Linked DNA regions of Homo sapiens: all the other regions are linked to region 1. The links come from fine-mapping of genetic effects on gene expression. A gene starts in region 1. Each other region holds a variant in brackets. All regions are shown on one strand. Distances are from middle to middle. Region 1 holds the start of APOOL (apolipoprotein O like). Region 2 has its middle 63 kb from the start of APOOL. Region 3 has its middle 24 kb from the start of MIR1321.

Evidence for each region. PIP is the estimated chance that this variant, and not a neighbour inherited with it, causes the effect.
Region 2: its variant is the best candidate, but not a certain one, in a credible set for the expression of APOOL in regulatory T cells (Bossini-Castillo 2019, PIP 0.84).
Region 3: its variant is the best candidate, but not a certain one, in a credible set for the expression of APOOL in lymphoblastoid cells (GTEx, PIP 0.77).

The regions. Positions count from the first base shown.
Region 1 is chrX:84,999,194-85,007,381 of GRCh38, reverse strand. APOOL (apolipoprotein O like) reads right to left here and starts at 3,505. Exons shown (of 9, transcript NM_198450.6): 1 at 3,455-3,505. The coding sequence starts at 3,469.
Region 2 is chrX:84,936,705-84,944,892 of GRCh38, reverse strand. No RefSeq gene overlaps it. Among named protein-coding and RNA genes, the nearest start is that of APOOL, 63 kb to the left of the region's middle. The variant A/G (reference allele first, on the strand shown) is at 4,764.
Region 3 is chrX:85,807,935-85,816,122 of GRCh38, reverse strand. No RefSeq gene overlaps it. Among named protein-coding and RNA genes, the nearest start is that of MIR1321, 24 kb to the left of the region's middle. The variant C/T (reference allele first, on the strand shown) is at 5,034.

The DNA of each region.
Region 1 (8,188 bases):
TTATCCACAGTGGATGACTATTTGGATAAATTCCCTAGATCTTCTATCATTCTCACTTTGACAACACTCAGCATTGGAGCAACCCCACTGTCTCCTCTTCCCCTCCTATGCTGTGAGCACTGCTGGAGAAAGTCACTACTAGAGCCAACATTAGCCAGGCCCTCACTTCTCAGCAATTATTAATATTTTATTCAATGTCTACTGATACTTTACTGAATTTCCTAAAGCACCTTTTCCAAGCCTATCCCATTCTTAAACTCCTAAAGGCATATTTTCCTCTCAGCAGATGACCTTCCACCCAGAAGATACAGACCTCCAATGTGAGCTCCCTCCTCTACCTCCTCCGTTCTTCAAAATCACTTGGTATCTTCACCTTCTATCTCGACCAACTCTGGCCTTTGAAGCAAAGTGTGTCTCCTCTTTGCAAGGTTAATCCCTCCACTTGTTCTCTTGATTTTACCACTTTCTTACAAAGTATGGTTAAGAGTCCAGGTTCAGGACTCATACCATGTGATTTCAGATCCAGCTCTACCACTTTACTCCTGTGTGACCTTGGAGTTACTTGACCTTTTTAAGCTTCTGTTTCCCTACCTGTAAAAAGTGATTAATATAAATTCCTACTCATAGGGCCAATGTGAAACATAAATGAGAGAATCCACATAAAGTGCTTAGCAAAATTCCTAGCACGTAGTCAATATTCAATAACACAATAGCTGTAAATACTATTATCTTTCCCTCTAGATACCTCCTGGTACATTTTCCCTTGTCTCCAAAGTAGCTCAAGTCTTCTGTCTCCTGTTTTGTTTTTAGTTTTTTTTTTTTTTAATTAAAAGACACCTTTTCTGGAATTTGCTACCCTCATTCCAAGATTTTGTTCCTTCTTTTCACCACCAAACTTCTCTAAAGAGTAATGTATAACTCCTTTCCAGAGGAAGCAAGGAGGAGTGGAAAGACTTTGGAGATAAATATACTGTTTGAACCTAGTTCTTCCACTTAGTGGTTGTATGACCTGGAGCAAGCAGTTTTTCTAAGCCTCCGTTTTTCCATCTGTAAAATGGATATATTACCCATTTCTTAGGGTCATCAAGAGGATTAAACTAAAATAATATATGTAAATCATCTGGCCAAAGTGGGTGCTAAATGAATGCCAGTTCTCCATCCCTTATTCTTTTCTTAACCCCATACAATCTTGGTTGTTCCTCTACCACTCTATTTATCTCTTTAGCTCACTTCAGCTCTTATTAGCATGGTTTTGAATAATCTGACTTCTCTAAACCTTAATTTTCATGTGTAAAATGGTAATAATACCCACCACATAAAGTTGTCTTGAGAATTAGTGAATTAACACATGTAACGTGTTTTAGCATAGTGCCTGGCCTGGAGTAAGCACTTAATAAATGATAACAGCAGCAACTTATTAATGGTGAAATCAAAGGACTGTTCAACTCTCTTCTTCTCAATGAAAACACACTATTCTGGTTTGCTTTTTGCCACTGACCATTCCTTCTGTCTCTGCACCTTCTCCATGAAGCCTCTTTTTACTCTCTTCAAACCAAGTGTGAGCTCTCTCCTTTTGAGCGTCAGAGCACTTTGTACTTCTCTTCAGGTAAGAAACTCCCCTTACTCTGAATCACAGTCATTTGTGTTATATGTGTTATATCTCCACCACTTAATCTCTTCTGTCCTCATTGCCTGGCACTTTATTCATGTAGAACATGTTGACTACCTAATATACATCAGACCTGTGCTAGGTACTACGGATACAAAGGTTAATATAATTACTGTCTTCAAGGAGCTTATAGTTTAGGTAGCTAGAACAGACAAGTAAGTAGTCTATATGTGCAGTGGAATAAATGCTTGGTTAAGAGTGTGCCCAGAGTCCTCTGGGAGCACAAACAAGAGTTATTAAAATAGACTGGCGAGGACCGGGCGTGGTGGCTCACGCCTGTAATCCCAGTACTTTGGGAGGCCCGGGGGGGGGGGGGGGTGAATCACGAGGTCAGGAGTTCGAGACCAGCGTGACCAACATGGTGAAACCCCGTCTCTACTAAAAAATAAAAATAAAAAAATTTAGCCGGGCATGGTTGGCATGCGCCTGTAGTCCCAGCTACTCAGGAGACTGAGGCAGGAGAATCGCCTGAACCCGGGAGGTGGAGGTTGCAGTGAGCTGAGATCGCGCCACTGCACTCAAGCCTGGGAGACAGAGAGAGACTCCGTCTCAAAAATAAAAAATAAAATAAAATAAAATAGACTGGGGAGATCAAGGACACTATTAAACAAGGCATTTTTGTGTTTTGCATATGGGGAGGCTGTACACAAATAGCTGCTGAATGAATGAATGAACTATAAATACAACTAGATAAGCATGGGAAAAGGCACTTTAGGCCCAGAGAAAGAGCACGTAAAAAAGCATGGCGGGGTCAAGCAAGCAGCTCAGTATCGACAGGAGGAGGGTTCCTGAGTGACAAGAGATGAGGCTGGAAAGTCTAGGTAAAATCAGATGTTCTAGACATAAGAGTATGGCCTGACCCCAGAGGGGAGATGATGACATGCCCATAAAATTTTTTAAATGCGGGGGGAGGCAAAAATCAAATTTGCATTTTGGTAGATGTACTCTGGCAACACAGAGGAAAACAGATTACATGAGAGCCAGGCTTGAGGTGGCAAGTTCAGGTAGGAGGTTGTTCAAATAACTCAGATGAAGTATGAGAACCAGAACTGTAGACGCTGCCGACTTAAAACTTCAGCGGAACTGAATTATTCATACTGTATCTCCTGCAAGCCTAACAGAATATTTTACAATTAAAACCCGCTACGTAAATATCTGTAGACTACCATTATTAAACACTACTTAGGGAACTGCAGCAAGCTGCCAGCTGAGTCACTCACTGTACACGGACTCCCAAGTAAAGGCACCTTTCCCAAGCGTAAAACTCGAAAGGAACAGGTTATTCGAGCACAGAAAGCAACAACACTATGTGTAAACCAGCGCACTGCTGAAAGACTATGGGACCTCTCTATCCTGGTCAGTTTCACCCCAAATGTTTCAACAAAGTCCTTCCATAGGGTCATGTGGCCTTGCCCTGTGCGCCGAGACAAATGCCAAGTTTATATATATATTTTTCTCTTTATTGCAGCTGAAGACCGAAACGTCTACTGCGGCTCGTCGCCTGGCCAGCCATTTTCACCCAGCCGTTTCCCAGTTTTGTACTGTGCCACTGTGTAAATCGACAACCACAGGGGATTGAGGGAGCAGCGTCCCAGGCTGATAAAACCCTAATGGGGAAAGGCAGGTGTCTTGAGGCTTCAAACGATAAAGATTGCAATTATCTCAAAACCCACCTCCACCCTGCCCCTTGTTTCAGGGCTCCTTCAGAAGTTAGTAGGATCCCTTTTACAGTTACCGGGATGCTATCGGCACCCACAGAAATTAAGCAAGTTGGTTTTCGCTTACCCTGATGGCCGCCATGTCTACAACCCTTTCGGCCAAGGTTTTCAGACGGAGAGCAGAGAGGGACAAATCAGTTCGACTAGGCTTCCCTTAGGACAGCCCCACCCCGTTACGCCCCTTGCCTGCCAGTTACCGCCTTTTCTCCGCCCTCCTCCAGCCGCCTTGGCAACTGCTGCGGTTTCGGTCAGCTGTCTTCTGGAGAAACTGTTCACCCCTGTGGTTGACCCTCCCGGTCCCAGATAAAGCCTTCCAGAACATTATCAATAGTCCAGTTGGGAGTTATTTTCCTGGGTGCAGAACTTTTAATTATTTTGTTTCGGGCATATGTGATATGTCCAGATAAGGACTTAATACCCAAATGTAGCTGCTTTAATAATTAATTATATAGTAAGAAAAACAACTTATTACCTCTGCGAAACATGGGTAAGTTCATTCATTCTAAAACTAAGTCACGGAGAGCATACTCTGTGCCGGGCAGTTGTTCGGGGCATAGACAAAACATAGTGGCTTCCTCACAGAGCTTATGATTACAGGAGTAAAAGAGACAAATGAGGCCGGCGCGGTGGCTCACGCCTGTAATCCTGGCACTTTGGGAGGCCGAGACGGGCGGATCACGAGGTCAGGAGATCGAGACCATCCTGGCTAACACGGTGAAACTCCGTCTCTACTAAAAGTACAAAAAAAATTAGCCGGGCGTAGTAGCGGGCGCCTGCAGTCCCAGCTACTCGGGAGGCTGAGGCAGGAGACTGGCGTGAACCCGGGAGGCGGAGCTTGCAGTAAGCGGAGATCGCGCCACTGCACTTCAGCCTGGGCGACAGAGCGAGACTCCGTCTCAAAAAAATAAATAAATAAATAAAAATAAATAATAAATTTTAAAAAAGAGACAAATGCTATGAAGGAAAATAAAACAGTATGGGAATGAGGTGGGAGTTTACTGGTTTATATCAATGAGAGAAAGACTCTGATAAGCTCATTTGATAAAAGTCCTGGAGGAATTTAGAGAAGAGGGTTGCATACGGAAGGAACAGCAATGAAAAAGTCCAGTGAGGCTGGAGCAATAATTTCAGAGGTAGCGAAGTAACACAGTGTAGGGGCTTTCGTGCCGCCAAAATAAATTTGGATTTTATGCTGAATAAGATGGGAAATCATTGGAGGATTTTGAGCAAAGGTGTGATGTGATCTAATTTACATTTTTAAAGGATGATTTTGGTGCTATCAGGAGAATATACTAAGGGTATATTGCAATATTCACAACAGGAGCAAGGTCTGCTGTAGGCCTCCCTGAAGGATTCTGAGGAAAGAAGATGCTCATAATATGCCCATTAACAGTCCCAATATTAATTCATGTATTCATTCATTCAATCAACAAATATTTATTATGTGCAAACTATATACTAGGCATTAGTTGATACCTATCACATTTCATACCCAAAACAGATCCTTTTTAACAGAACTGTCCTGTAAATGACAAAATTATTTTAAGAAATAATGATGAAATGAAACTAATAATACTGGCTACAAAAGAAACATTGAGTGACTATTTTCTTTTATTGAACTTAATATAAACATATACATACATATATATGCCAATATAAAAATAAAATGCAAAATAAATAGTACAGAACCAAAAAAGGAAAAAAATGGATCAAGGTGTTTTAATTGCATTAATGTATTTTTCAAAGGAAAAATACTTATATCTACATAGTGGTCTGCCACAGGAATGAATAATAATATTACAGTTTCTGTTTTTGAGCCTTAACCTCTGTGTATTTGTCAATAATTTCATCCAAATTTAACATTTCTGCATATTAAATAAATGGTATACCTAGATTTGTCAAGCTAACTTTGTTCATAACTGATTGATGCACACTTTTTATTGATTTTAATATCAGTCAGGTTTATTTCACAATAATCAACAGGCAAATAAGAAAAGTCTTAAAATTGTGAATAAGCTTAGAATAAATTTATAACAATCTTATTTCCCAAAAATTTCAGGAATTTCAATAACACCCATGTTTTGTTGTTGTAGTTGTTGTTGTTGCTTCTTTTCCAACTTTAACTTTTATTTTGGGTTTGGGTACATGTGCCGGTTTGTTATACAGGAAAATTGCATGTCAAGTGGGTTTGACATACAGATTATTTCCTCACCCAGGTAATAAGCATAGCACTTGATAGGTAGTTTTTCAATCCTCACATTCCTTCCACCTTCCACCGTCAAGTAGGCCCCAGTGTCTATTGTTTCCATCTTTATGTCTATGCATACTCACCATTTAGTTCCCACTTATAAGTCAGAACCTGCAGTATTTGGTTTTCTGTTCCTGCACTAGTTCACTGAGGATAATGGCTTCCAGCTCCACCCATGGTGCTGCCAAGGATATGATCTTATTCTTTTTTATGTTTTTGATGGCTGCATAGTATTCCATGGTATATATGTATCACATTTTCTTTATCCAGTCTACTGTTGATGGGCATTTAGGTTGAGTCAATGTCTTTGCTAGTGAGAATAGTGCTGTAATGAGCAGACCCATGCATGTGTCTTTATAGTAGAATGACTTATATTCCTTTGGGTATATACCCAATAATGGACTCCCTATTCAATAAATGGTGCTGGGAAAACTGGTGAGCCATAGGCAGAAGACTGAAACTGGACCCCTTCCTTATACTATAATAAAAAATTAACTCAAGATAGATTAAAGACTTAAATGTAAAACTCAAAACTATAAAAACCCTGAAAGACAACCTAGGCAATGCCATTCTGGACACAGGAACTAGCAAAGATTTCATGACAAAGACACCAAAATCATTGCAACAAAAGCAAAAACTGACAAATGGGATCTAATTAAACTAAAGAGCTTCTGCACAGCAAAAGAAACCATCAATAAACAGATAGCCTACAGAATGGGAGAAAATAATATCCAGCTTCTGTAAGGAATTTAAACAAATTTACAAGAAAATCAAACAACCCCATTAAAAAGTGGGCAAAGGACATGAACAGACACTTCTCAAAAGGAGATATACATGCGGCCAACAAGCATATGAAAAAAAGTTAAATATCAGTGATCATTAGAGAAATGTAAATCAAAATCACAATGAGATACCATCTCACACCAGTCAGAATGGCTATTATTAAAAAGTCAAAAAAATAACAGATGCTGGTGAGGTTGCAGAGAAAAGGGAACACTAATACACTGTTGGTGGGAGTGTAAATTAGTTCAACGATTATAGAAAGCAGTGTGGCAATTCCTCAAAGAGCTAGAAACAGAAATACCATTCAACTGAGCAATCCCATTACCGAGTAAATACACAAAAGAATGTAAATGGTTCTATCATGAAGACACATACACACATATGTTTATTGCAGCACTATTCCCAATAACAGACATGGAATCAACGTAAATGCCCAATCACTATAGACTGGGTAAAGAAAATGTGGTACATATATGCCATGAAATACTACACAGCCAAAAAAAGAATGATATCATGTCCTTTGAAGCAACATAGATGGAGCTGGAGGCCTTTATTTTAAACTAATGCAGGAACAGAAAACCAAATATCACATGCTCTCACTTATAAGCGGGAGCCAAATGATGAGAGCATGTGAACATAAAGAGGGGAACAACAGACATTGGGGCCCACTTGAGGGTAGAGGGTGGGAGGAGGGAGAGGGTCAGAAAAAATAACTATTTGGTGCTAGGCTTAGTACCTGGGTGATGAAATAATCTGTACAACAAACCCCTATAACACAATTTTACCTATATAACAAACCTGCACATGTACCCAAGAACCTAAAATAAAAGTTTTTAAAAAAGTAAATAAATAAAAACAATATTAACTTTTTCAATCCAAAAATAGAAAAAAATTCATAATTTCCTTACACTCATCTTTTCCTATATGAACAATCAAGAATAAATCAATGGAATGCATTCAATGCTTTTATGACCTTATCCACAAATATGGAAGCTTATGACTGGCATGTTTTTGTCAACTAAATGCTTTGACTTTACGTAAGAATGATCTATAGGACATGGAACTATTGTGTATGAGAATAAAAAGAAGTGTAATTCTCAGAATATGTCTATGTGATGTCCCAATTAGTGGCAGAAATATTTAAAAAGTCAGAAAAAATATATACTGGGCTTGAGGCAATGAACAACACAGACACAATCCCTGGTCCCAGGGAGCTTAAGTATATTTTGACTAAGACAGTAAATAAATTAAGATTATTTTAAATGCTGATAAATACTACAGAGAGTGACTATAGTATTTAGTCTCTGGTTTGGGGTGAAAGTTACTTTAGATTGGGAATACCTCTTGAAGGAGCAGATGTTTCAGCAGTCTTGAGTAAAACGTGAGTCTACTCATGTTAATGTTTGAGCACTCCAAGCAGAAGGAACAACTAATGCAAAGACCGTGAGGTGAGAATAAACTTACTGGAGCACCATAAGTAAGGCAGAAAGTGATAGAAGAGTCTGGCAGGAACCAGATCTATATAAAGAATTTGGATTTTCTTTTAGGTTATTTATTCTTAAATATTCCTTGATTTATTATTGTAAGTTTATCAATTGCCACTAATTGCTTTGGGCACAAAAGGCAGCTTTGTATAATGGAAAGTATTAGCATCAAAATAAAATCTTGGCCTCTAAAGGCAGAATCTTGAAGGAGCTGAGCCAGACCAGATGTTCCAAAAGTTAGTGTATTTGGGAATCACCTGCATAATTTGATAAAATGAGAATTCCT
Region 2 (8,188 bases), 62 kb after region 1:
GGAGATTTTCACAGTGCCTTTCTATATAATGTCTGTAATCTATAGATAACATAACCGATTAAGTCAGGGGTGGATCTTTAACCAGGCCCAGGGTGCGGTGCCGGGCTGTCTGCCTGTGGATTTCATTTCTACCTTTTAGTTTTTACTTCTTCTTTCTTTGGAGGCAGAAATTGGGCATAAGACAATATGAGGGGTGGTCTCCTCCCTTACAATCAAGTAACTTTTAAAAAAGTAAGTGCTTATCATATTGGTAGAAGTTAGCTCAGGTGCCTTTTAATTCACATAACCTTGGTAATCTTTGGTAAAATTAATTTGGTAAATTTAATCCTAAAACTCTCCTGTAATTTAAAAGTCTTTGAGTCATATTAAACCCTCAGGATTTTTTCCCACTGGAAATTTGGGTTACTAAAAAGTTAAAATAGTAGAAGCATAAAATATGCCTTTGGTAAAAATTTTATAAATACAAGGATGTCAATTTTCAAAAAAAGTTAGTTTTGTTTCAGTTAAGAAACTAAGAGTTAGGCCGGGCATGGTGGCTCACACCTGTAATCCCAGTACTTTGGGAGGCCGAGTTGGGCGGATTGCCTGAGGTCAGGAGGTCAAGACCAGTTTGGCCAGCATGGTGAAACCCCATCTCCACTAAAAATACAAAAAAGTTAGCTGGACGTGGTGGCATGCGCCTGTAATCCCAGCTACTTGGGAGGCTGAGGCAGGGGAATTGCTTGAACCAGGTGGAGGTTGCAGTGAGCTGAGATCATACCATTGCACTCCAGCCTGGGCAACAGAGCGAGACTTCGTCTCAAAAAAAAAAAAAACAAAAAAACTAAGAGTTGCTTTATAATGAAGGAAATTATACAGATAAAACAAAATAAATAAAAAAAAAAAAAGCCAGGGCAACAAAACTCTGAGCCCTGTGGTTACCAAGACAATAGTCCATATGGGGAAAGGGTAAAACAAAGTAACTATTTAAAACCCAAGTATGTAATGTAAAGGAATTGTTCCATCTTGTAGATTGGTATCATCCAGCTTCTTTAAAAAAAATCTTTACTATAGTGGATTGTAAAAATAACCACTTTAAGAACAAAATTCTTAATTTTAAATGCTACAGAATATAAGACCTTGTTTAGATTAATGCAGGACCCACAGCTCATCACTTAACCATCACTGAGTATATTTGTTCCAAATTAACAGGGGTTTATTCCTAAGAAAGTGATCAGCCTAGTGGGCCAGATAATGCCATTGTAAGGTCTGTTTGCCTTGAGAAGGGGACTGCCCAACTCTCCCTATAAAATACTAAGTGAAGCACCCCAGATTAAGCAGTTGATATGCTTCATATGCAAGCCATGTTGGACTAACTTTATGATAAGTGGGATATCTTCCCACCAAATGTGCCTATTACCCAGGTCATGGTAAATTTTGGGGTTAAGGGAGCCCATTTTACATGGGAGCTCCTCCCACAGAATAATAGGACTGTTTAAGAAGCCTTATCAAATATGCTGTCCCTCATCAGTCTTACAAATGCAACTCCCTGTGGGAACCGAAATCCTTTTCACCAGAAAATGTAAAATGGTCTGGGGGTAAAAAAAGGGTTACTGAGACCGGAACATAAAAACATACAGGCTCATAGAATTATAAAATTAAAATGTTTAAACAAGCTTTATATAAGGTAGTTGTAACCCCTTTACTGAAAGTCTTATAAAAATGGATACTATATCAAACTTACACGGTTAGATGTTTCCCCATCTAGCAGTGTAAACTAAAGGCATATAAATCTGTTCTTTTAAGAAATGTTTAATTGCACATGCTAAATGGAAACTAGTAAGGTGCCTAAGTGCACAGAATATAGGGTAAGAGCTGGAGTGCTAGTTGGGACAAATCCTCCACTGCATAGCCCTTTATGTGGAGCTTTTATCAGGGCTGTTGGCAAAAACTGTGAGTACCTTTCAATGACAATGACTGAACTGGAGAATTTCTACTTAATGGGGCATTTACTGCCTTGCTATGAAATATTAACTGAAGCTATCCCTATGCTAATGAAAATAATGTTTCCCAAAAGAGTGCCATGATAGAATAAAAATGGTTTATATAAAATCTTGCTACCTAATAAGCAGAGAGCCTCTTTCCTAGGACTAATTGTGAGGAGCTGCTAAATTCTACAGTGCCTAATAGCTCTCAGGAGCTGTTTGGTTTGTAAATGGCATTTCAAAGGTATACAAACATCTTGTTTTAAAAGCTGCTACTCTGGTTAAAGAAAGCTCAAGAGAATCTTTTTCTTTTAAGTTATTTGGGTACAGTATGTCTTTGTAAGAAAATTTACCTTTCTGAGCTCTCCAAAATTTAGATTGAAATTTTATGACATTATAGTTGTCTGCATTAGTTCAATAATAGTAAAAACAAACAAGCAAAAAACAAAAAAAACCACAAACACAGGCTGAGCACGTGGCTCACGCCTGTAATCCCAGCACTTTGGGAGGCCGAGGCGGGCAGATCACGAGGTCAGGAGATCGAGACCATCCTGGCTAACACAGTGAAACCCTGTCTCTACTAAAAATACAAAAAATTAGCAGGGCGTGGTGGCATGCGCCTGTAATCCCAGCTATTCAGGAGGCTGAGGCAGGAGAATCTCTTGAACCCGGGAGATGGAGGTTGCAGTCAGCCGATATGGCACCACTGCACTCCAGCCTGGGCGACAGTGCGAGACTCTATCTAAAAAAAACAATTGGAGACACTGGTTATTTTACCAAGACTTAAACTAAAATAGCCTCTTTTTAAGCAAAGTTCCAGCAAAGCCAACTTAAAACGAGTCTATATGGTCAATCAATTCTCAATGTATTTTATGCAAATAATCAGGCAAGCATAATAAGCCTAAAACTTACCTTGCACACAAATTGGCCTTGCTATAATTTTATCTTTACTAAATAAAGGCAGCTAAAAAAATACTTTCAAGGGAAAAACGTAACACTTAATACTGGATTTCAGCCCTAACTTTTTCGAGTACAGATTAAATCGTTATAATTTTTCTTCATATTTTTATTTGGTGCCCTAATTGAATAGGTTTCCTTTTCTGTTCTCACATAGCAATTATTCTTTTTTTTTTTTTTTTTTGAGATGAAGCCTCGCTCTTGTCCTCCAGGCTGGAGTGTGATGGTAGGATCTCGGCTCACTGCAACCTCCACCTTCCAGGTTCAAGCAATTCTCCTGCCTCGGCCCCCCTGAGTAACTGGGATTACAGGCGCCTGCCACCACTTCCGGCTAATTTTTGTATTTTTAGTAGAGACGGGGCTTCACCATGTTGGCCAGGCTGGTCCAGAACTCCTGACCTCAGGGGATCCACCCGCCTCGGCCTCCCAAAGTGCTGGGATTACAGGTGCCAGGCCTCAATGACTCTTATAATTGTCAAACTATAAATGTTATCTATCTCTCCTTGTTTTACTTCCAAGGAAACCAAAGCCATGGTATTCTAAAGACCAGAGATATGAATCTCCCTCATTTGGCATCCCCCTGGGCCCAGATCTGTTTCACTGCTAATGCTCTGCTACTAAAACCTTACAAGCTGCCTCGCTGTAGGCCCAGGGACTATCGTGGAAGAGATGGGTGCATAATATTGTAAGGGTCAGTTTTGAGGGACTAAGTCAAGGTCAAACCCTCCAAATCTAAAAGGGGGTACAAAAATGCCTAAATATCTGGTAAAACAAGTTTAATTGCCTTCTAAACTATCATGTGTCACTTTTGCATCCACCACGACCATAAAAATTTTCTGCTTACTATAGAATTAGAAGGAAATATTTACTAACTAGTAAAATAACCGGATAAAAATACCTTGTAACAAAGCCTCCTGGGTATAACACTCCCAATTATGAGTTGTGAAGATAAATATATCTATATCTATATAGCTATAGATATAGATATGTTTAATTATTTTTCAGAACAATGCTAATGTTTTATATAGCTAATTGCTAAAAGTCTGTAACAAAAACCAAGCTTATAGTAGTTCAACACATAGAAGTTAAAAATAAGTGTCTTGTAACTTTGCCTTTTGGTTTTGTTGTTGGCTTTTTTACTTAAAATAATAATTTTAAGAAGTAACAAATGCCTGTCCACATCCATTCCTAGCTGGCCTAGAACAATTAATTGGCTATAAGTCTTTTGACTCTTAAGGCTCTCAGCCATAGGGAGTCCTGCCGAGGGACAAAAAGAAATGACACTGTAGAATGACTTCTCCTGTGACAAAGCCTTCTTTTCTCTCCCAAATACCAGTATATGGTGCAATACAAAAGTGGTGGGAAAAATAGATTTTTCTACTGTTAGCAAGTCTATAACAATTTAGACACTGAGGACCGGGTGTTTCTTGCAATTGATTAATACCCTCCTCAGGTTGTTATACCTATAGAGATAAATTGGCTAGAAGAGACACTAAATTTATTGGATTCTGATTTAATGTCACTCCTACTATCCTCAAATAAGATTTATCATAAAGTTCAAATAACCCTTAACAAGGGGGTTGAACACATTGTGAGTTTGATCCAAGAATATAATAATGCATACAGGGGATTTTCTGGCAGATTGGGTTGTTTACTGCCCTCTGATTCTACCTATAACCTTGGACACTCAATCTTCACTATCTTTATTATATTTCTTACTATATTAGCATTATACAACTCTTGTAAATGTTATGCCAGATACAGCAAAAGGAAAAGGTACAATTAAGGACCCGGATCATGATAGCTCGCAAAATACATCTGGCCCGGGAATTTTTTTTGTTT[A/G]TTTTTACTAAACCCTAGGCCTGACTCCATCTCACCCCTTAAACAAATGGCTATTATATTGGTTCAGACCATGTCCTCCCCCGTGATCCAAATAGCTAATATTTATTTATTTATTTATTTACTTATCTATTTTTTCATACAGAGTCTCAATCTGTTGCCCAGGCTGGAGTGCAGTGGCACGATCTCGGCTCACTGCAACCTCCGCCTCCCAGGTTCAAGTGATTCTCCTGCCTCAGCCTCCCGAGTAGCTGGGATTACCGGTGCATGCCACCACGCTCTGCTAATTTTTTTGTCTTTTTTTTTTTTTTTTTTTTTTTTAGAGACGGGGTTTCACTGTCTTGGCCAGGCTGGTCTTGAACTCCTGAACTTGTGATCCACATGCCTTGGCCTCCCAAAGTACTGGGATTACAGGTGTAAGCCACCACACCCAGCTTAATATTTAAAAGTATTACCATCAAATCAGAGAGCTCTAGGAACGAGCCTTCCTAGTGCCAGGAAACCTTGCCAGATGGCCAAACCAGACAACTCTAGGAATGAGCCTTCCTAGCACTGTGGGACCTGCTGCTGTTTGTTGGCCTGAACATTTGTCCAAGGGGGGGCACTGAGGACTAAGCTCTGATTTTTTTTTTTTTTTTATCATGCCCAAATTCCTATCTGAGGGGTCTGGAGAGTCATGCCCTGAAAACCACAAATTCTCATCAGATGGGTTTTATTTAACCCTATATGTTGTGACTTACTTTCCAGTCTGACTCTGGCATAACATTATGTGACAAATAAGAAAGTCAAAATATTTTACCTCAAAACATGTTTCTTTGCCATATCTTGAAATGGCCCTGCAAAGCTGTCCTTTGCGGTGGAAAATCTGCATCTGTAAACAATCTCTATTAACATAGCTAGATCTTTTTCTTCCAGGCCCTTCCAATCCTAAAGAGATTAAGCAAGAGTCTACCACCATTAAAAATTGGAATAGGAAACATTTGTCATCTATTGTCTCTAAGGGCAGCCACTGTAAAATTTTAAAAGAACCTTGGTCTCCACAATGTTTTATTTTATCAGGAACATTTCCTTTCTATTGATCCCAGGTCTTTAGACAAACTGGACAAATTGTCAACCAGAAAATGTTTAAATTTACCTATTGCCTGGAAGCCCCCACTTTGAATTGTCCCACCTTTCTGAACCAAACCAATGTGTTTCTTAAATGTATTTGATTGATATCTCATGGCTCTATAAAAATGTATGAAACCAAGCTGCACCTTGACCACCTGGGACACATGTTCTCAGGACCAGCTTCCTAAGGGCTGTGTCACGGGCCATGGTCACTCATATTTGGCTCAGAACAAATCTCTTCAAATATTCTACAGAGTTTGACTCTTTTTGTTGACAGTATAAACCCAAAACAAGTGAAGATCATGATTTGAGGCCAGTATAAATTATATAAGAATCTTTTTTCTCATCATGAGATGAAAGAAAGCTGTACCATGGATGGTTGGATATTTGCTATGCTTTTCATATACCTAACATGAGAAAGCTAAATATTTTTAGCTAAATATTTTTATAAATGCTAATAATATATGCCAGATTATCCTTGTTCATGGCCTAACTTTCAAGCTGAATTAGACTTGCCCTGATGGTATCTATAGAGGCAAGACAAAGTCATAATATCTTACCCCAATACACATAAAACACGATATTAAAAATCATGCCAAACATTTAGTAAGCTGAAAGTACTCAATTTTACGTGTAGGGTATGTGTTAGCAGTTTTACGAGGCAAAAGCTATGTTTTTTGATACCTAGGATAGAACCTTTTCCCCAAATCAGCTCAGTTATTCTGCTTCTGAAAATACTGACAATAGAATACAATCATCTTTCCCTCCCTAATCCAAATACAAATTTTAACATTTCATAATTGATTTCACTGAAATCGAGGAACTGGTAGGTAGGGACTAACAGAGCAAGATGGGAGTAACCATTTTGAATAAAAAAGAACCTTAAATATTCTAATCAGAAATAGAATTGCCATCCTACTATGGCCATTTTGACTGTCTCATAATGTCCTGCTTAGATTTTATTGTTTATCCCCAAATATTTACTATTATGTGGGTTTGATTTTGATGGTGAAAATATATTTGAAGCAAAATAATAAAGGCAATATAATTAGTAACTGTGAATTGGACCATAATAGGAAAAGCTCATAATAGTGTGAGATCACTGTATTAATATTCTGAAAATTCCAGCTATCACTATTGATGACCTACATACATAATCTCTACCATAAAAGTTTCTATTTGCTTCTTAGGAACAGACTATAATATTGAATTTCTTGATTAGAAATTTCTTAAGTGGTAATGTTTCAACAATCTACAAATATCAAACATATTCATAGCATAGCTCTCTACTAAATCAATGATCTCTAGTGACATGGACAGAAATTTTATTCTTTTTTTTATAGTTACATATCATAATGTAAACATTTTGTAAAGATCTCTTGGAGGCATGTAAAATCTAAAATACAAAGGTTAAAAAGTGGTTTGCAAACCATGCAATAAAGCTTTTACTAAAAACTAGGTAAAAACAAAATTCTCCCTCTCTTTCTGTTTCAGATGTTCAATAGCCACGCATGGCTAGCGGCTACTGTATTTGGATTGTGTAGATATAGGATGTTTCCGCCATTGCAGAAAGTTTTATTAGACAGTATTGCCTTCATCCCTCCATCTCCCCTTTAACAAGAGTAGATCATAGGTAATATACTAAAGTTAACTTTTACACTTCAAAAAAGAGTTTATAAAGTCTTCTCAAGTGAGATTTAGTGTAATTTACAAATTAACATATTTAAATGCAAAGACTTTTTTTTTTTTTTTGAGACACGGTCTTACTCTGACACCCAGGCCGAATTGCAGTGGCTCAGTCACAGCTCGCCACAGCCTCAACACCCAGCCCCCCTCCCCGGGCTCAAGGGATCCTCCCACCTCAGTCTCCTAAGTAGCTGAGACTACAGGTGTGCACCATTATGTCTGGCTTTTTTTTTTTTTTAATTTTGTTTTTGTTGAGATGGGGTTTTGCCATATTGCCAAAACTGGTCTCGAACTCCTAAACTCAAGCAATCTGCCCTCCTTGGCCTCCCAATGTGCTGGGATTAGAGGCATGAGCAACTGTGCCAGGCCTGAAGAAGTTTCTCTATGTCTCTTTTTCTTCTGTGCTCCAGGTAAGAGAAAATTTGGCATGTATTGAAAATGTAATGTCAATAACATTGTTAGCATCCAAATAAATTATTTTAAACGTGCATGAAAGTAAAACACTAAGCATATATTTTTCCTGCTGAGTAGTTTTTGTTCTCTTTTATTTGAAGTGTTAAGGATTAAACTTACCTTCAGAAAATTAAAACTTTTTTAGCCTACTAAGATTAGATAATTGATTAAATTACAAA
Region 3 (8,188 bases), 810 kb before region 1:
TGGGGTAGGGATGTTTCCATATCTTCTGGTGACCAAGAGCATGCTTCTCTGATTTAAATGTGCAAAGAGTTAAGTATTCCTCCATAACTACTATTAGCCATCGCTTAAGGTATATTTCCTACCTAGTTATCAAAACTGTTAGATAACACAATGCAAAACAGAACAGAGCCTTTAAATTTGAGAATGAATTATCTGCTTCTAATTCCTGGGGTTTCATGAGGAAAATAGGGTTTTGTTTCCCAAGGAGTCCCAGGCTACCAGAAGTTATCTTAGGACCTCTCTTGTGTGCATTATGAGTGGCAAGACAAAAAATGGAGAAAAATAATTCAATTGACTGAAAATTTAAAAAAAAACACTTTTTCCAGAAAAGCAAGATCCAAGAAGAGAAAAACATAAAGGCCTTTTAAATATACCTACAACTTGAATATACACTTTTAATTAAGCTGAGCACTCTTTAAGAAAATCCTTTTAAATCCCTTGTTACTCTACTTTAGCCATGCTGAGAGTTAAGATTTTTGGCTTTTGAGCTTCACAAAAGGTAACCTAACCGGTGAAACCAACAAGCCATAATTAGGTTATGACTTAACCACGAATGTATGAGGTATTTTCAAAGGGGTGATAAGCAGCTTTTGAAACCATTATTGCAAAATTGTGACTGAGAAAGTGAAAGAGATTCGACCCAACCAATTCCATTTTGTTTTCAGCCCCCAAGCTTGCCCATCCCTGGACATAGGCCAAACCAACATTGGGAGGAGCCTGGTTTACAGTTTATAGTCCAAAACAAAGGTGATAACAACGCCTTCCTAAGACAGCTTCCCTTTTGCCTGGGGAACAGACCAAGAAACTCTCCACAAGATTAGAAACCGTGGCTTAGGAATAACGTAGGTGGAGGCTGCAAGATTTTGACTCTCCCTTAACTACTCTCAAGATCAGTGCTTAAGGTATTTTGTAAACCCTGCCTTTGATGGATTAGCTGGCCCCTCCCCTATTGATAAACTGGCTTATCTGATTTTATGGTCCTCACCCAAGGAACTGACTTAGCACAAGAAGACAGCCACCATTGTAAAATGGCAGAGACTAAAATAAAGTATTGCCACGTGGTTACAGGTCATTTTGCCAAGAACATGTAACAAGATGGAGACCTGTTGACGTGTTTGTTATTGACTATTTTGTTGGGCTGGCTTGAACAGCAGGTTTATGGAGTCCTACGCCTGTATCCTAACCTAAGGTATCCTTTCTTTTGACAGAACCATACAGAAAGACACACAAAGTACACCAGATTGGCTACAGCTTAAGAACAACCTTGCAAATACTTTTTCATCAATTAAAACTTAAGAATATAAACAATGATCCTTATTATTTCTTTTACCAGTTTTCACAGGGAGAGAGAAACAAAAAGGCCAACTGGTAAGAAATTTTTACCCTTTTGCCAGCATGTCAGGCTTCTGGGTTCCCTTCCCCATAGCTCAACTCTAAGCCAAGCATTTTAAGGTTTGCAAATTTAACTTTTCCAAGGTTGGAAGAGCATTATGAAAGGAGATAAAGCCATTTTAAACCATGAAAGAAGGAAAAATACCATAGAAAAGTCTGGGGGTTTCAATTAGGGTCATCAAGACTGCCTCTCTTCCTATTGGGAATGTGTTTCTCCTATTTCTTTGCCTTCCCTATTTTTTCTTTTCCCTTTTGGCCTACTATAGGAGAGATATTGCTCATCTCCAAAATTCTCTCCTGATTGCAGAGCTGCCGGTTTTTCAGCTGCAGTTAGGGTTTGGCTTAGGAGCATCCTAACGTCCCTTCATGAGAGATCAAAAACCTGAGTTAAATTTTGGAAAGCTTCTATATACTTATCAGCATCATTAGAAAATTGGCCTAAATCTCCCTTTATTTGAACAAGGTCCTTTAATGAGAAGGGAACTCAATGGGGCCCCAAATAAGGGGGATCCTCAGATGGTGCCCCTGGAAGTTGTTTCTCTAATTTGGGTGAATCATTCTTTATAGGTCTGCCTGATATGGCTGCTAAAAGAGCTGGGTTGATTGTGCAATGCTTACAAAGGTCTAGTAAGAAGGCCTTGCCCTTGTGCAAAAGAAAATGAGCCACTTTTTCTTCAAAATCTCAGGGTCAAAGGAGCTCCTGTGCTTCAGAATGCACTCCAGGAGTGCAAGCTGAAGATGGTCTGTTACCCATCTTGAAAGAGATGTGAGAAAAAGGAGTCCTTTTAGTCTCCTTCCTTTTGGTGTGACCCAGGGTGTTGAGGAAGAGAGCAGGGGCATCCTCCCTGCTGTTTCCCCTCCACGGTTCCTGGGTACTGGCACCTTGTTAAATGTGCTGCCCATGGCTGCAGGCATGAACTCCAGCCATGGAACCAAAGGAACTAAGTGATTAAGATTAGTCATGCTCACCCATGTGGCTCTGGTCATCTGTCTGTGATCTCTGTTTGACTTCTTAGACTTGTGTGACCTGCCTGACTCCCTGAAAAATGGATCTCAGGAGAGACTATGTGACAGTTGCATTTCCCTCCTTACTGGAGGAAGTGTGCTGGTTTCAGCTCTATATCCTGCTTTTATGGCCCATGCTAAAGCATTTGCCCTTAGAGAATGGTCCTGGTTAACTTCTGAACTTTAAATGCCCTTATTTATTAATTACCATTTAAATTGGAGGCAGAATAGATGCTTTAAAAATGTAGGGGCTGAATGGCCATTTTCCTGCTGATGGGACAGTATCAAGAGTAAAATTTGGTTCCAGAGAACATTTTACTCCCAATTGTTGAAGGTAAAGTTTTCCTGTTCACAGAAGCAGCATAAAACCTGGTCTCTGGTAAAGGGGCAAAAAAAAAGGGAGAATTGGGAAGCTAGAGTGTTTCAGGAAAGGACCAAAAATGTGCCTCATGGAGAGGATCTCTATTCCACTAGGTGGGTCTGTTGACCTTGAAATGCCATGTGCTCTCCAGACCAAGGGCAGAGAGTGATGCTCACTGTGGTGGGTGGGGACCCTCTGTTCCTAGAAAATCACAAAGGTGCCCTCCCTTGAGCTATATCCCCAGTTACTATGACATTCCCTGATCTTGCCAAACAAGATTACTTCCCTGAACTCTAAAACTTCCTGCACATTGCATACACAGAGAGGATAAGAGATATGGCAGTTGCAAACAGGAAAGGAGGTAATTACAATAGGAAAGTTGGAGATCCTATTGCCAAAATCCCATCAGGCAGTTGGAGGCAGGGGTCAGTCCAGAAGCCTTTGGATAACACTGGGGATAGCCTCAGCCAGAAATCCTCAGTTACCTCAGGACTTCTTCCAGCTCCACATGACAGCTAATTCCTCTATGAAAGGAAGCTGGTTCAAACATGGCCAAGATGCCCAGCAACCCATGGGTGCTGGGGAATTCTCCATGTTCTCCCCATTAAGCCTGTCCCCCAAATCTTGTAAGGCTGGCAGCCACACTAATCATTTTTAAATGACTGAAAGGGGACTAGTATTTGGTTTGATTTGGTTCTAAAATGGAGGCCAAGAATCTCAAAATGAAAAGACAGAGTTGAAGTCTACTCCTCTACTCACTGTTACGATGAATGTTGTACCTTGATATCCTGGACGAGCCCCCAGTATGAAGTGGATATGTTGTCTGGGGTATATACCCTGGGTTTGTTGTCTCACACCAGGAAAATTTAGGACACAGAGACACATTAGGAGTTTAGGAGCAGAGGTTTAATAGGCATAAGAGAAGAGAAAGAGAAGCAGCTCTCTCTATAGAGAGAGGTCTCCAAGCAGAAAGGACCAGTGGGCAGTGGATGTGCTGGATCTTATAGTTAGGTTTGAGGAGGTAGTGTCTGATTTACATAGGACTCACAGATTGGTTTGATCAGTTATGACATTTACATAGTGCATGGGGAAGGCTGGCTGCCCCACCCTACTCTTATTATGCAAATGAACTCTCCCATTGACCACTGCTATCTATTCTGCTCCTTACTGTACACGTGGCTGATAAAGAGAAGGGAAGCTGGGGCCACCATTTTGAACATGATTAGCACAGCTGCTGGCATCTATGGCTACAGCTCGATTTTACAGGCTGCTCTTTGTTAGAAAAGAAAATGATTTGGGGCTGCTTTACATTAAAAGGAAAACATTACTGAGGACATTTGTGCCCTCACTATCTATCTGCCTAAGTAATTTTTTCTTAAGTCTTTTATCAGTAGTTTGATACAAGTAGCATTGAATCTGTAGATTGCTTTTGGCAGTATGGCCATTTTAAGAATATTGATTCTTTTACCAATGAGCAGGGAATGGTTTTCCATTTGTGTCAACTCTGATTTCTTGTAGCAGTGTTTTCTAATTCTCATTATAGAGATTTTTCATTTTCCTGTTTAACTGTATTCCTAGGTATTTTATCCTTTTTATGTCTTTTGTGAATGGAATTGTGTTCTTGATTTGGCTTTCCCAGCTTGGATATTGTTGCTATATAGACGTGCTACTGATTTCTGTACATTAACTTTCTATCCTGAAACTTTGCTAAACTTGTTTATTAGATCAAGGAGCTTTTGGGAAGATATTATGGGGTTTTCTAAGTATATAATCATATAATCTGCAGAGATATTTTGACTTCCTGTATTCCAATTTGGATGTGTTTTATTTCTTTCTCTTGCCTGATTTCTCTGGCTAGGGCTTCCAGTACTATGTTGAATAGGACTGGTGAGAGAGGGCAATCTTGTCTTTTGCTAGTTTTCAAGAGGAATTCCTCCAGCTTTTGCCTATTCAGTATGATGATTGTTGTGGGTTTGTCATAGATGGCTCTCATTAATTTGAAGTATGATGAACTGAAATTCACATGAGAATGAATGCTATTGAATCACATTTATTTTTCTATTATTGTAAACATGCAAAATAGCGAATCCCACAGACAAATCATCTTATTTCTAAAACTTTGTGTCTATAAGAATGGAGGGAGAGTAAGAGAAATGAAATGAAGCACATGGGTGTGTAAATGTATAACTGCAAAGAGCTAGGATTGGTGAAGAAGGGACACTCGTTCTGTAATCAG[C/T]GTGTTTGTTACCACTAAGAGGGTTTTTTAATGGATGAATGGGAGAAGCCTTCCCAGGTTCTGGGATTAGGGAGGAGTCATGCCTTTTTAATAAGGAAGCAATACAAGAAGAAAGAAATTACAATTTTGTTTCTTCTCTTCCAGAGTTAAGGTATTGTAAGCAGAGTATCATAGTGTGAACTAAGGCACTCAGAATAGATGAGGATGTGCCAGAATTCAGAAGGATATCCTCAGGTTCTGAAATGACTGCTGGAAACAAAAACAACTAGAGCTTTAAGAAAAGTTAGAGAGTTTGGAACACTAGAAACAGTATAGAACATTGGGGAGCTGAAACAAATGTGTTCCCTAACTTTTCAGTTATTAAAGTTGAGATAATGAGCGTTCAAAAGAGTAGGGTTTGGATTAAAATGTGGAATTTTAATCTTGCATAAATTATATATGGACATTACTTGTTATAACTTATTTTTGTTAAAATTATATTTTTTTATAAATTTGTATTAAGAGCTAAGAAAGGGATATTCAATATGCGTTTTTAAATAGAAGCTATTTCCAGAACTGCTAAAAGGGATGTGTGTGTGTGTGCATGTGTGCGTGTGTGTGTGTGTGTCCAGGAGCATAGGTCTGGTAGTGTGAGTGAAGCAGATAGAAATGTTAGTCAAAGGTAAGTTATGTTATGACAATTTCAGTTTCATGAAAGATGAACAAACTCAGACTATTTAAAGAAGACAGAAATCTTGTTTTGTGGAGTTGGAAGGTTCAGAGCTTCAAGCAGAATTGATGCCAGACCCTCAAGGAATGGCTTTCTCTTTCTCTTCTTTATTCTGATTTCCTCTGTGTGTGCTTCATCCTCTGGAAAAATCTCTTCCCACAGTAGTAGCAGGTACAGGCTTACATTACATCTCTCAAATTGCAAAGATAGGAAGAAATTTATTAAGGTCCAACAAGAGTCCTAGAATCTTCCCTCATTGAGAAACTTAGGTCACTTGCTCATTCCTGGACTAAACATTTTGTCCAAGAAGATTGGACACTCCTATTTGAAAAGTCTAAGTCATCTTACTACTCCTATGGTCACAGAGAGCAGTCAGCCCAACAATAATTTTCGGTTACCAGAGGGGGAATGGGGTGGGAGAGGAGCACGTTGAGCAGACAAAACTATAGCTAACACAAAAGACTACCAGCAACATTTCCAAACTGATGATATGAGGCCACACATGAATGTAACAAACCCCAAAATAAATAACTTCAATCATAATTGTCTGGATATTTGGTGTAAAAGTATAGCTGGGATGTTTGCCCATTTTTAAAGAAAATAGCCTTCTTTCTTATATTAAGCTTTCTTCATTGTAGTCTTTGGACAAACTGTATCAGAATTATTTCAGGATGCTTGTTTAATAATGTAATTTCCTGGGGTCTACCCTAAACCTCTTGAAGCAGAATCTGGATTGTTGGCTAGGAATCTACACCACCTTAGGTAATTATTAAGTGCACTAAAGTTCCAGAATAATGTCCATTTTTTATTTAGACACATTGAATTTTTTTTTTTTTTTTTTTTTTGAGACAGGGTCTCACTTTGTGACCCAGGCTGGAGTGCAGTGGTGTGATCTTGGCTCATTGCCTCCACCTCACAAACTCAAATGATCCTCCTGCCTCAGCCCCCCAAGTAGGTGGAAATACAGGCTGGCTAATTTTTGTATTTTTGTAGAGATGGGGTTTCACCATATTTCCCAGGCTGGTCTCGGACTCCTGATCTCAGGCAATTCTCCTGCTTTGGTCTCTCATAGTGCTAGGATTATAGGCATGTGCCACCATGCCTGGCCTAGACATCTTGAATTTTAATACCAGGAGAAGCCATTATGTTTGGGTTTGTAATTGGGTTGTAATCCAGTCAATATCATTGTTGTTGCTCAACAGATACTTGATTTATTGAATAATCATATCCTACTAGTTTAGACTAATTAGTTGGAAGCCCCAAGACTTATTGAAAATTCAAAGCTATAAGTCATTTTAAAAAAGAAATAGGAGATGGCTGACTACATACAGCCAGGTGGAAAAGCTGCCACCAAGAGACCAAGATGACTGGTACACTCCTAACATATATTCAGAGAGAAGGCATGGAGAATAAATAGAAGGAAGACATAGCAGCTGGTCTGAAGGGGGAGGAAGCTGGGAACTCTGCATGGGGCTACCCCACACCAGGACTTGTTTCTGGCCCCCAGTGACCCCTGGGAATGGGTGAGTTGAACTGGCAAGGAGCAATCCAATCTTGCCATGGGCCTCTGGAATTTCAGCAGTAGGAGACCCCTCAACCACCATGAACACTTGAGTTGGCAGGGAGAGGTGCTTAGAGAAGTGGTAGGGGCAGCATGCCAGTTGAGGTGGAGCCCAGAGGGTTTTGTGTGGGAGCATCTGTAGTGGTGTAAGGCCAGGAAAGCCCATCTCCCTAGGCTCTATTTGCTCCTTTAGCTTTAGGGGAATTGTTACGCCTGAACTCTTCAGGGCCATCTTGTGAGGTCGGTCCCACCTGAGTACCCCTTGATCTGCTGGCCTCTCCCTGGGCCCTAGCCTGGCTGGGCCTGCTTGCAGGGAAGCCTTGGGTGCCCTCGGGGCCTGTATCATAGCTTCTGTGCTGGTGGACTGTTTTTGACTAGTGAAGAGCTCCAGCAGGGTGGCCCCCACAGCCATATGCCAGCCTGCCCACTCATTTCCCATACTACAGCTTCCTCTGAGCTCACAGGAATTCCCCACATCACTTTGCTGCTGCGTGTGTCCACAGGCAGGTTTTGCCTTCCTTGCCTCACCAGCATGCATGTGTGTGGTCACCTTCCCTTGCCACTGCGGTGGTGGATTCACTCCACTTCCCCCTACCCCGGCTGGACCATTATTGCAGTCACAGCTTTGGCAGGCACAGAGCCAGCCAGCCCTGCCCCCTCCAGTGCCACTCCCTTGAATCAACACTGCCATGGCAGTGAAACTGGGCACAGGGAACAGCAGACACTCCCCCACCCTGAGAAACCACCCCTGCCTGTGGCACAGAGAGTGCACACAGAACTGTGCCCACCAGTGCCTCACCCCTGTGCTAACACCACCACCAGGGTGACTGTGTGCACACGTGACAGCAGCCCCTCCCCATCACCCCCAAGCCATGCTGCCTCTGC